Homo sapiens: one gene and its partners. The protein of the gene in region 2 interacts with the protein of the main gene of each other region in a pairwise test. Each region holds a gene or a part of one and is shown on either strand. Other genes may lie near its edges.

The links.
Region 1: the proteins of SSMEM1 (region 2) and GPHB5 interact in binary tests that used the Homo sapiens proteins (3 or more experiments, as listed by UniProt).
Region 3: the proteins of SSMEM1 (region 2) and TMEM86B interact in binary tests that used the Homo sapiens proteins (3 or more experiments, as listed by UniProt).

The regions. Positions count from the first base shown.
Region 1 is NC_000014.9:63,316,766-63,320,587, forward strand, and holds the start of GPHB5 (glycoprotein hormone beta-5 precursor), read right to left. Parts: upstream 2,171-3,822; 5' UTR 2,059-2,170; intron 1,086-2,058; 5' UTR 1,085-1,085; coding exon 881-1,084; intron 1-880. UniProt on the Homo sapiens protein: Functions as a heterodimeric glycoprotein hormone with GPHA2 able to bind and activate the thyroid-stimulating hormone receptor (TSHR), leading to increased cAMP production. Plays a central role in controlling thyroid cell metabolism.
Region 2 is NC_000007.14:130,205,772-130,209,371, forward strand, and holds the start of SSMEM1 (serine-rich single-pass membrane protein 1), read left to right. Parts: upstream 1-2,088; 5' UTR 2,089-2,139; coding exon 2,140-2,322; intron 2,323-3,515; exon of another isoform or gene 3,516-3,600.
Region 3 is NC_000019.10:55,226,690-55,230,511, forward strand, and holds the start of TMEM86B (lysoplasmalogenase TMEM86B), read right to left. Parts: upstream 2,075-3,822; 5' UTR 2,053-2,074; coding exon 2,002-2,052; exon of another isoform or gene 1,797-2,001; coding exon of another isoform or gene 1,749-1,796; coding exon 1,502-1,748; intron 875-1,501; coding exon 492-874; 3' UTR 1-491. UniProt on the Homo sapiens protein: Catalyzes the hydrolysis of the vinyl ether bond of choline or ethanolamine lysoplasmalogens, forming fatty aldehyde and glycerophosphocholine or glycerophosphoethanolamine, respectively and is specific for the sn-2-deacylated (lyso) form of plasmalogen.

The DNA of each region.
Region 1 (3,822 bases), on a different chromosome or scaffold from region 2:
CATATTGCTGAGCACCTTGAAAGTTAGTTATTGAATCTGTAGTAGTGTGTGGACATTCAAGGTTTTTGGGCCAGGGAGTGACAAGATCAGAGACAGCACTTCATTGGTTACCAAGTGGGCAGGCCTCAGGGGGAAGAGCCCACAGTCACTACGTAATGTGATCTGCTGGGGTGCTGAATAGCTCTCTTCCTCTTCATCACTCAAACAGCTCCTCTTAGCCCAATAGGATTTTAACTTTGTTTGAGAGTGTTATCTCCACTTTAAATTAAATGTCTCTAAAAAGGCCAGGTATAATTGAATATGAAGGAACTTAATGGATCCGTCAGTGATAACCCCAGAGGGCTCCCAGAGACTTGAGGAGGAAAAGGGCTGCAGAAGAGGCAGTGAAGGGGTCTCACCCTTCACTGGGACCAACGCTCACCCTTCAGCTCAGGGCCTCTTTCTTGGAAACTGGCTAATTTATCCAAAATGAGGAAACATAGGGAGGAGTTTGGGTCACAAGCTTGAACCACAGATTGATTCCCAGCTTTACACTGACGCTCTACGTGACTTTGCAGCCACTCTCCCTTGAATCCCTCCATGTCATCTGTAAAACGGGTAGAACAGTACATCTTGACCTCCCAGAGATGATTCCCAGATACATAGACACAATGTAAACCAAATTCTTAACCTTATCAATGCTTTGTTAGAGGGGCAACATCATGTTTTTCAAATCACTTTTGGAAGATGCCAATCATAGTTTTGTTTTGGTTTTTTAAGTCCACAGGAAAGGGCAGATGTCCCAGCTCTACCTCATATCATTTAAAAAGTGAACTCTTAAGAATCAGACCCAAGCTGCTGGCCTAGAAGACACTGTCATCTGCACAACTTAGCAACTCACCTCCCAGGTCTCACAGCGACCCCAGCAGGCATCCGTGGTGATCCGAAGGCCCCTGCAGCCTGGCTTCTTGGCCAGGAAAGTAAACTCCCTCACGGCACAGCCCACAAAGGTGCGCAGGTTCCCACTGGAGGCACCGAGGACACAGCCATAGCCAGCCAGAAGGAGGAGGGCCATGGGGCCAAGGAAGAGGAATGCCAGCTTCATGCTGCTCTTCCGGAGAGGGAAAGGACAGAGTTTAACAGATCTGGCTGCCTTCAATGGCACAGCCAACCATGCATTTGTCACTATCAAAGGGACCTTGCTCCTAGCATTTCAGGGAAAATGAGCCCAGAAATTGTAAATGCCCACAAACTCCAACACAGGCATCCAGAGATTCCTGTAACTGGTGCCAGTGTGGATTCCATGGCCCTCTCTAGATGCCCATCCTCCAAGTGCATTCTCAGGCTTTTCCTTATTGTAACTTAACTGCTGCAGTTGACTTGTGTGTTAAAGAAGTTTGTCCCAGTGGTCTTTCCAAAATAAACATAAAATATGAGTAACACCAAAACTAATCCATAATCCAACAGAATACATGAATACATATAAATTATTTTTATTCAGGTCCAGGGTATTTGGGTGCCATGTTACATACTTTGCTCAAAACTATATTTTCAGTGTCATGATGGGGAATGATTTGGAGGGGTTGATAAATATTAATAATAGTATTCCCTATATGCATCGTTACTAAACCAACTCACCACTAAACATGGATATGCAGAAGATATCATGAAACCTATCACCTGAGTTGGTGGCCATTCATAAATGTGTCCTACTCACTGTAAATTGCTTCTGCTCTAGGCTTCCACTGCAACAGCATCTACTTATGATTCAATTTAAATCCAAATGATGGAAAGCATAGGAGTTATTTAAAACATAACCTCAATCCACCGTCAAGTCCACCCTCTCTGGGTCTTGGTCATTCCCCGTGCTCTTTCCGGAGCCAGAATCAACCCCCTTCATGCTTGGCCCACTAGACAGAACTCACGTGGATTTTGAAGTATAAAGGATATGGCATTCATGGACCTTTACCCCCTACTGAATTCATTATTCTCACAGTTCCTACTTCTGACCTTACTGTAGCAAGTTCTCTGGGCTTCCCCTCCTCTGGAATGAGGTTACAAATACGGAGAAGCACTTACCTAATCTTGCAGGAGCCCACTCTTCTTTTAGAGCTGAAACTTGCACTAAGATTTCAGGAAGTCACAATGAATGGTAGAAGTTTGCCCTGGGTAAATGTCTCTACCTTCTGTTACTGGGCTGCTTGATTGCTCAAATATATAGGAAAAGTCTTGTCAATCAAAACAAAAGAGAGGCAGATCCTTACAGGAACTACTAAACACATCAAAGCCATGGAATAGAAAGCCAGTCTCTATTTTCCAAAACTGATTAACTTAAAGGGTGTTGTTTTGTTTCTCAACATCACCTACTGAAATAGAAAGTTACCTTGGTGGGTGGCATAATCCTAAGGAAATAGTCAGAGGTAGTTCCACCTGGTTCTCAGGAGAACAAATGCATTGTGGCAGATGGATTAAATTTTCCTTCATGGTAACCACAAGTTTCCTTTGAAACAGGGGTAAGTGACTAGCAGCTCATGGCAAACCCTTTCCTTTAACCGACAACATGTTTCAATGCACTGAAAAACAACAAAACGATAATTCTTGCTGGAAAGAACACAGGATCACTACCTGAAAAGATGGAAATCACAGTGAGAAGAAACATGTCGAAAGTCTTAAAATTAGCTAAGAATTAGATGATATTAATAACGCCTTAAAATGAATCATTTAGGAAAAAATACCACGATGTTCCAAGTGATTATCTTCCAGCATGGGAATTAAAGAAAACTTTTCATTTCCTTTATATGGTTTTCAGCATTTTTCACATGTTCTACATTGGGCAGACTTTTGTAATAAAGAGTCAGTCAATATCAATGTTTTAAAATTAAAATAAACCAAAAGGTATGCATTTGTTCTGTCTGTAAGGACATTCAGTGCTGCTCTGATAGAGAAGTTTTACAGATTTTTGGTCTTAAATGATTCAAATAAGAACAAAATATTTTTATGAGTATGGGATATAGTTTATATTTCAATCTACAATAACAGCATATGAGTGGATTAAAAATATACTTGTTCATGGCATTTTTCTGGGTGCTCTAAAAAGTAAATGAAGCAGACATCATCTTTGCCCTTAGGAGTTTTGATATCATAGTAAATAATGATGTAGGCAGAGACATTGAAGATGCACACTAACTAACTAGTGAAACAAAGTAAAGAAGTTAAACCATTTCCACTTTCTGCAAAGAAAAGTGTTCTTTAAATAAATGTACTGCTCATTGTAGATTTCATTTTCAAAACAGATAACAATGCCCAGTGAGTCCATCAATTTACCACCCCTCTCTCTAGAGCAGAATTATTATACATGTTTTATAGAATATTGAACTAGGCTTGGAAAAAGGACTTTCTTCAGCGCTTCAGCCTGTGAGTAGCATAACCAGAACTGGAGTACTCTGGGGACGGACTGCTCAGCTGGCCTGATCTTCCTAACTTGCTGGCCAAGAGCTGGCCAGTCGGCAGTGAGCTGCCATCCTGGGCTGTTTCTGAAGACGGCTGCCCAACCCTTTAAGACCTGAAACATACACACTTGTGTCTGCAGAGTCACACAATAAAGACAGATTACAAAGGCCAAGAGCATCTTTCTTTCACAATCCCCAAGTTCTTTATAATGCAGAGATGTGGCATCATGCATTCCACCCTGTCAGCATTAACTTTATAAAAATGACAATTTGGCCGGGCGCGGTGGCTCACGCCTGTAATCCCAGCACTTTGGGAGGCCGAGGCGGGCGGATCACGAGGTCAGGAGATCGAGACCATCCCGGCTAAAACAGTGAAACCCCGTCTCTACTAAAA
Region 2 (3,600 bases):
AGACACCATCAGTGACAAAGCATTTCTTTCCCCTGTGTTAAAGTATCTATGTCAAGAGTCCTGACCCCATGTAATTTTTTTTTTGGTAGAGACAGGGTTTCGCCATGTTGGCCAGTCTGGTCTCGATTTCCTAACCTCAAGGGATCCGCCCGCCTCAGCCTCCCAAACGCCTGCTGGCCTCCCACCGCCTTTTGGGATTACAGGCGTGGCCCACCGCGCCCGGCCTAAATTCTTAATCTGTTTAATAGGGTGCAGCAATAACAAGCACACCCAAAATTTGTTTTATTGAAGTTGCTAGTGGTTTTGAGGTTAAAAATAATAACACATTTTCGTATGTATTTTTTGGAAGAGCTGCTCATCCTGAGGAAAAGGTTGAGCTTTGTTTTATTTAGCACAAATACCTACAAGTGTGCCGCTGAGCCAGGCGCACGGATATAGAAAATAAGACCTTCCTGGTTATTACCCAGAGGAGCTCAACCCCAGCGGAGGCCCACAGATGCATTTCGGTGGCAGGTGAGGTGGATGCAGTGCTCCCCAAGGAGGCGCATCCAGCCCAGCCCCAGCTCTCGCGAGCTTCCTGGAGGAGATGACGCGTTAGAGTCCACAGCCAGAAACCCAGGGCCTGGGGACTTGTTCTGAAGTGTGCCTCCTAATAAAAACATTAAGCCATGCCACAGTAAGCTAGTGGATTACATCATGTATGTCCAATGGCCAAAGTTTTTCCTAAAATGATCCTAAGATTAATACCACGTGGTATTGTATATTAATGAAAATCGGCAGGTATGCTGTGCTCTTGAAGAGCTGTTAAGTTTTATCATTTTTAGATTGCTTTAGCAGCAATGTTGTTTTGCTCTAGTTTTAGATTTAGAGATGAACTAACTGGAAAATTGTTCAAAGTGAAAGGGCTCAAGGTGCAATCAAAATTAGAATACCGGCCGGGCGCGGTGGCTCACGCCTGTAATCCCAACACTTTGGGAGGCCGAGGCGGGCGGATCACGAGGTCAGGAGATGGAGACCAGCCTGGCCAAGACGCTGAAACCCTGTCTCTACTAAAAAGACAAAAAATTAGTAGGGCGTGGTGGCATGCGCCTGTAATCCCAATTACTCTGGAGGCTGAGGCAGGAGAATCACTTGAGCCTGGGAAGCCGAGGTTGCGGTGAGCCAAGATGGTGCCACTGCATTCCAGTCTGGGCGACAGAGTGAGACCCTGCTAAAAAAAAAAAAAAAAAAAATTAGAATACCGGTTTCCCACCCCCTCCATATGTGACTCTTTCCTAAGAAGAAATTGTATGCATTTGATGTAGTTCATAGTAGTTCATAACGGGCACATCTGTGTTTTTCCCTCTTAATCTATAAGCTGTTGTGCATTTATTCAAGGCTTAAAAAAGAACACCACTGACCAAATGACAGCATTATGTATTAGGGCTGCCATAACGCAATATCACAGACAGGTGGCTTAAACAACAGAAATTATTTTTTTCATAATTTTGGAGGCTGGAAGTCTAAGATCAAATTGTCAGCAGGGTTGGTTTCTCCTGAGGCGGGTCTCCTTGCAGACGGCCCCCTTGTATTGTGACCTTGATTTCTGTGCTCGTGAATCCTTGCTGTCTTCTTGTAAGGATACCAATTGTATTGGATTAGGGCCCTTATGACCTCATTTAACTTTAATTACCTCCTTAAAGGCCCTGTCTCCAAATAGAGTCACACTGGAGGTGAGGGCTTCAACATATGAATTTTAGGGAACACAGTTTGATCGGTAATACATTAGAACTGTCTATGATAATTTGCAATGGCATGATACATATAAAAGAGACTGAATTAAAATGAGTGGATACATTAAACACTTAGACGTGAAGATAGGAAAATATAGCATATACAAGTTTTAGGAAAAAAAATTAAGGCAGAATGCACCATATTGAGGTATGGGGGAAAATAACATAAACATTCAGAGGAGTAATTTGAATAACCTTCCACAAACTTAGAAGTCCAAGAAGCATTTGTCAGTTCCTAGAACAGTTGCTTAAGTATGTGTCATAATAGGTTGCCAAGGAAATTGTCATACATCATAGAGGGAGTGAAGTAGTTCCCAGTCATCTTTATCCCTTTAAGCATGGTTTATTTTCTGAGCAAGGAGTCATCATGGGAGACCTTTTTTCCTTATTTTGGGAGGTAGATCCTCCCCCAATACCTGTAAATTGTGCCATTCCAAATCAGGATTATGAATGCTGGAAGGATGACTCTTGTGGAACCATAGGGAGCTTCCTGCTTTGGTATTTTGTTATCGTATTTGTCCTGATGTTCTTCTCTAGGGCTTCTGTCTGGGTAGGATATCTTTTTTTCATTTTAAATAATATGTTTACTGTACACTAGGAAAATTTCCATAAAATACATTTACTATACTTTGATGAAACTACTTTTAAAAGTTGTTTAGTTTTAAAAATAATGCAATCTTATTCTGGAGAATCCAGGAATATGGAAAAGGATGAAGAGGAAAATATAAAGCTACAGTTATCCTCTTTCCCAGAGATAACCACTGTTAACATTTTGGAGTATGTTCTTCCAGTTTGGTTTTTTTCTCTGCCTTTCCCAATATATCTCTCTCCATTTCTCTATCTTTGATCTTACATGGTTGGCATTATATTGCATATATTTTCATATCCTGCTTTTTAAGCTTAATAATATATCAGAAATACTTCTTTAAATTATATTCACTCAGCAGCACTTTTAATGACTGCATAATTTTCTATATTTTGATTGCACCAAAAAATTGTGCAAGTTTGAAACATTCAGATTGTTTACAGTTTATCCATCTGCTATGTAATGCTGGCATAAACCTCCCTGCTGGTTAATGACTTCCAAATCCCTTTTCTAGCCATGTGATTCTAATCAAAGATATGAAAGTTGTCATATTGATAGGATACATGCTGTAGGATTTTGGGGTTTTTAGAATGAAGCAATACGCTTTCTGCACAGAATAAGCAGAACTAGACTAAACAGAACTAAAGTCACCACTAAAATGCCATCGTCTTAAGAATGAGATATCCCACTTTATCAGGACTGTGATGCTTCCAACATATTATGAGTAACCAAGCTCTTTTTTTTTTTTCTTGAGATGGAGTCTTGCTCTGTCACCCAGGCTGGAGTGAAGTGGTGCAATCTTGGCTCACTACAACCTCCGCCTCCCGGATTCAAGTGACTCTCCTGCCTCAGCCTCCCTTGTAGCTGGGACCACAGGCGCAAGCCACCACGCTCTGCTAACTTCTGTATTTTTAGTACAGATGGGGTTTCACCATGTTGGCCAGGCTGGTCTCAAACTCCTGACCTCAAGTAGTCTGCCCGCTTTGGCCTCCCAAAGTGCTGGGATTACAGGCATGAGCCACCGCGCCCAGCCGTAACCAAGCTCTTATAATTTGCTGACATGATATCCTTGCTGGCCATTAATACCAGGCTGATGATTAAGAAAACCACCATCATTTAGCATTATAGCCATAGGCCTGGGCTGGCAGTGGTAAGACTTAATGCTCTATGAGCTCGGATGGGGTGGAGAAGGTTTGTTATGTCCATGCCAGCTGGATTCCATTCTAATCAAAGACTCTTTGA
Region 3 (3,822 bases), on a different chromosome or scaffold from region 2:
CATGGAGGGTCCCACTGGGCACCAGGCCTGGTCCATGGGGAGCGACAAAGAACCTTCTGCTGTCATTAACCGCGATGGTTTATCACAATCATGACCCTCCCCGAGGCCTCTCCTACGGTAACAGCAACATCTACGGTTCCACACCCACAGGGAAAACGGATTCAGAGCAGCAGCAGGGGGCGGGCAGGCTGTGGGGCCGACAGTGAACATGGAGGCAGGCTGGTGGCTGGGAGGGCTCCATGTGGGCCTGGCTGAGGAGCCAGGGATCTGGAGTCAGAACCGGGGGAAGGCAGCTGGAACCCAGTAGTGGACTTGGAATTCCGCAAATCGTCCTCAAACGTCTTCAGCCAGAAGCGACGGCGGCAGCGGCGCCTGCAGACAGGCGTCAGGAAGCTTCGCTGCTGAGGGTATTTCTCAGGCTGGGCTGGGCTGGGAGGCCCAGGTCCTTGCAGGAGGAGAGGGCCTGAACACCGGCCCTTCAAGCTCCCTAGTCAGTCAGTCTTGGGCACCGGGCTCCTGAGGGCTGACAGTGTGATGAGGAGCTGGGCAGCATAGTAGGTGGTCATGATCACCAGGTGGGCATGGGGCAGGGGCTGGGCGAAGGTGTCCCAGGCCAGCACGCCATCAGAGAGCGTGAAGAGCAGCGCGCCCCAGCCGGCACTCCCGCCCTGGGCCAGGCCGCGCCACAGCATGGCCATCAGGATCAGCCCATAGGCTGCCACCGGCAGGACCATATCCGGCTCGAGGTGCTGGAGCACAAGGCTGAGGTAGGGGCCAGGGGCCAGGATGATGAGCAGCAGCAGGCCGGGCTGCAGGGGAGAGAAGCCGAAGGCCCAGACGTAGAGGAGGTGGGCGGTGGCAAAGGCGGCCATGCCTGGCGGGAGAGGGGTGGGGTACCAGTGAGGAAGGCCCATCCTGGGAATGGCCCCGAGGTCACCCCTCAGGGCCTAAGAGAAGGACCATCCCAGAGCACCAGGCCCCACCCTGGCCGAGCCTCCTTGCAGGTCTCCCCACATGCAGTGTCCATCCTTGCTCTGCTCAGAACTGCCAGGAGGCCCCACCTTCCCTTGGCCTCCAAAGCCCCATGGCCTCCAGCTCTCCAGCCACTCTGCGCCAGCCACCCTGGCCTGCTGGGCTACAAGCACCTGACACGTCCCTGCCCCGGAGCCTTTACACTCGCCCTTCCTCCACACAGGCATACAGCCCTTCAGCTCTGCCCAAATGTGACTTCCTCAGTGAGGCCTTCCTCAGCAACCCTGCTTCAAACTGCAGTACCTCCAGCAGGTCCTCACTGCCCTCTGCGCCACCTCAGCTACTGCCCTAACACCGCCTGCCCCCACCCCTCGCTGGAGCGTGAGCTGCCTCGGTCACGGCTGCGCCCCCCACTGTGCCTTTGACCACTGGAGCTCTCACAGGAGCCCTCTGCACCCAGGCTCCCATCCAAGTGCTGGGGCCTCTCTCACACGGGCATCTGGAAAGCGTCACAGCACCTTCCACTCACCAGGGACGAAGGCTGCCGGCCAGATGAGGCAAGCGTCCCCCACAGCCGAGCACACAAGGGCTCCCTGGAGGAGCTGGGTGTAGCCCCCGCTTGGGGACATGACCCACAGGAACCCAGCCAGGCAGAGGACGGGCAGGCACTTGACCAGGGCAGCGAACCAGGACAGCTGGTCCTCGGGAATCCAGAGGCAGAAGTACACGCAGCAGGAGAGGATGAAGGGGCTCAGCCACCTGCAGACATCTGGGCGCTTTGGGGAGTGGGGAGCTACTGAGCCGAAACCCAGCCCAGCCCCCATTCTTGGGACTCAGATCTCATGGCTCCTGTCCCACCCCCACCTGGGACCCCAGCTGTACAGGCTGGACCCATTCAGGGACCAGGCTGCCAGAACCCAGCTTCCCAGGGCCCAACCAACTCAAGGACAGCAGCTCCCAGACCCGCCGGCTGCTGGGGTTCCAGGGCCCTGTCCCCCCAGCCCCAGGCACAGCTCAGAAGGCTCTCACCTGGGCTGAGCAGTGAGTCTTCAGGGTCTGCCCCGCTTTGCCAGCGTCCATGCTGGCCTGATAGCCCCAGAGCGACCTAATCTGGGAGCGAGTGGCTTCAGGGGGTGGAGGGGAGGGCTCATGGTTACACGTTAACCCAAGGAGCGTCCTGTGGACTCTGTGACTGATAACAGGGCCCAGGGAGATGTTGTCCTCACCCTGGGGATGGCCCTGCCTGGCGCCCGCTGATAAAGCACTGTTGGCACTGGGGGTCCCTCTGCCCTAGCCTGCTGGGACATGGCTTCCTCCTCCTATCTGCCTGGGGAGGTTAGGCCCACAAATGCCTGTCCCCTTGTCCTGGGCCCCAACAATCAGAAGAGATGGGGTGCAGAATTCCAACAGCCACCCCATCATGGGAAGCGGGAGAGGGGCTGGCTGGCAGGAGTGCCCCTGGAGGGATGGGAAGGCGAGTCTGTCCTTCACTTGCTGCCCTAGCCGTCTCCCTCCCTGCTCCATGAAACCTTTCCTCATTCTGCTCAACCCCACCAAGCCCTCAGGGGCTCCACCACAAACACTGCTTCAATGGGTGACCAGGAGGGACCACCACGAATGCGGGGAACAAGCACCCTCTCCTGTTAGCTGAGCGAGCCCCCAGGTGACCTCCAAGCCAACTGCCACCCCAGTGAGGACGCTGTCCTCATGGCCCGGTCCACACGCTCCGGTTTCCCAGCGCCGCTCACCGGTGCCACTCGCTGCACACGCAGCCTACACTTCTACCTTCTACCTGAAAGACTCAGACCTACTGGGCGCCAGTACCCAGCCTCAATGCTGGGCTTGGTTACTGGGGGTAAGCAGGGGCAGGAGCAGGGATTTGAGCCTGTCGGTGGCTTCTATCCTCTGCCCAAGGCCCTGCCCACAGGTGGGGTAGACCTGGCAGGAGCCCTCACAGCCAGTGCCTGGCCCAGCCTGGGGCCTCTGCAGCCACAGGGCTCCCTCTGGCAGGACAGTGTGGGGGCAGACTGGGTCAGGAGCACCCCCAGCCTCTGGGGTGCAGGGATAATACAGGCTCCCCACCCCGCATCCCAGAACGTAAGGTCTGACCAGCAGAATCGTAAACTGCCTTCCTTTATTTATATTTGCAATATGAAATAGAAGCTCGGCACAAACGCACGCACACTCACACCAGCCTGGGAGGAGGGAGCTGGGGACAAGGTCACTTGGCAACAGGGCTGGGACCTCAGACCCTCAAGGCCCCTGGGGCTGTTGCCGGGGAGGCCCCTGCTCCCCAGAGCCGGACTGGCCTGGTTGAAAGTGCAGGGTCTGGGCAAAGGCACGGCCCCCACTCGGGACCCTCTGGCACCCCCACCCACGCTGGGCCGTCCCCCATGGTGGACCTGAGCTAAAAGGCCGGGTGTGGGCGTGGCCGTCTGCGCTGCAGCGTGGGACAGCTGGGCACGTGGGTGGCAACCTTGGGACCCCTAACACCAGCTCCCGCTGGGACGGAACAGGGAAGGCTGTGCTTTGGAGCCGCCAGCCCAGTTCGGTGTCCTCACTCTCTCTCGCTCTCCTCCCTCTCTCTATATAATATATAATATATGTTTCTCTCTCTCCATTCTCTCTATTTGACTCTCTGTATCTTTATTCTAGGAGGCAACGCTCCAAAACTTCTCTTCTCAGTGCAAATGGGGGTGGGTTGGGCCTGTCTCCCTGGCACCAGCCTCCTGGGGGTCCAGAGGAGAGAATGTGGGGGTGTCAGGGTGATGAGGGCAATGGGGGCCATCGTGGGACCCGCCCTGCCCCCACCCCGGGAGATCCACGGGAGGACGGAAGATTTGGCCGCCG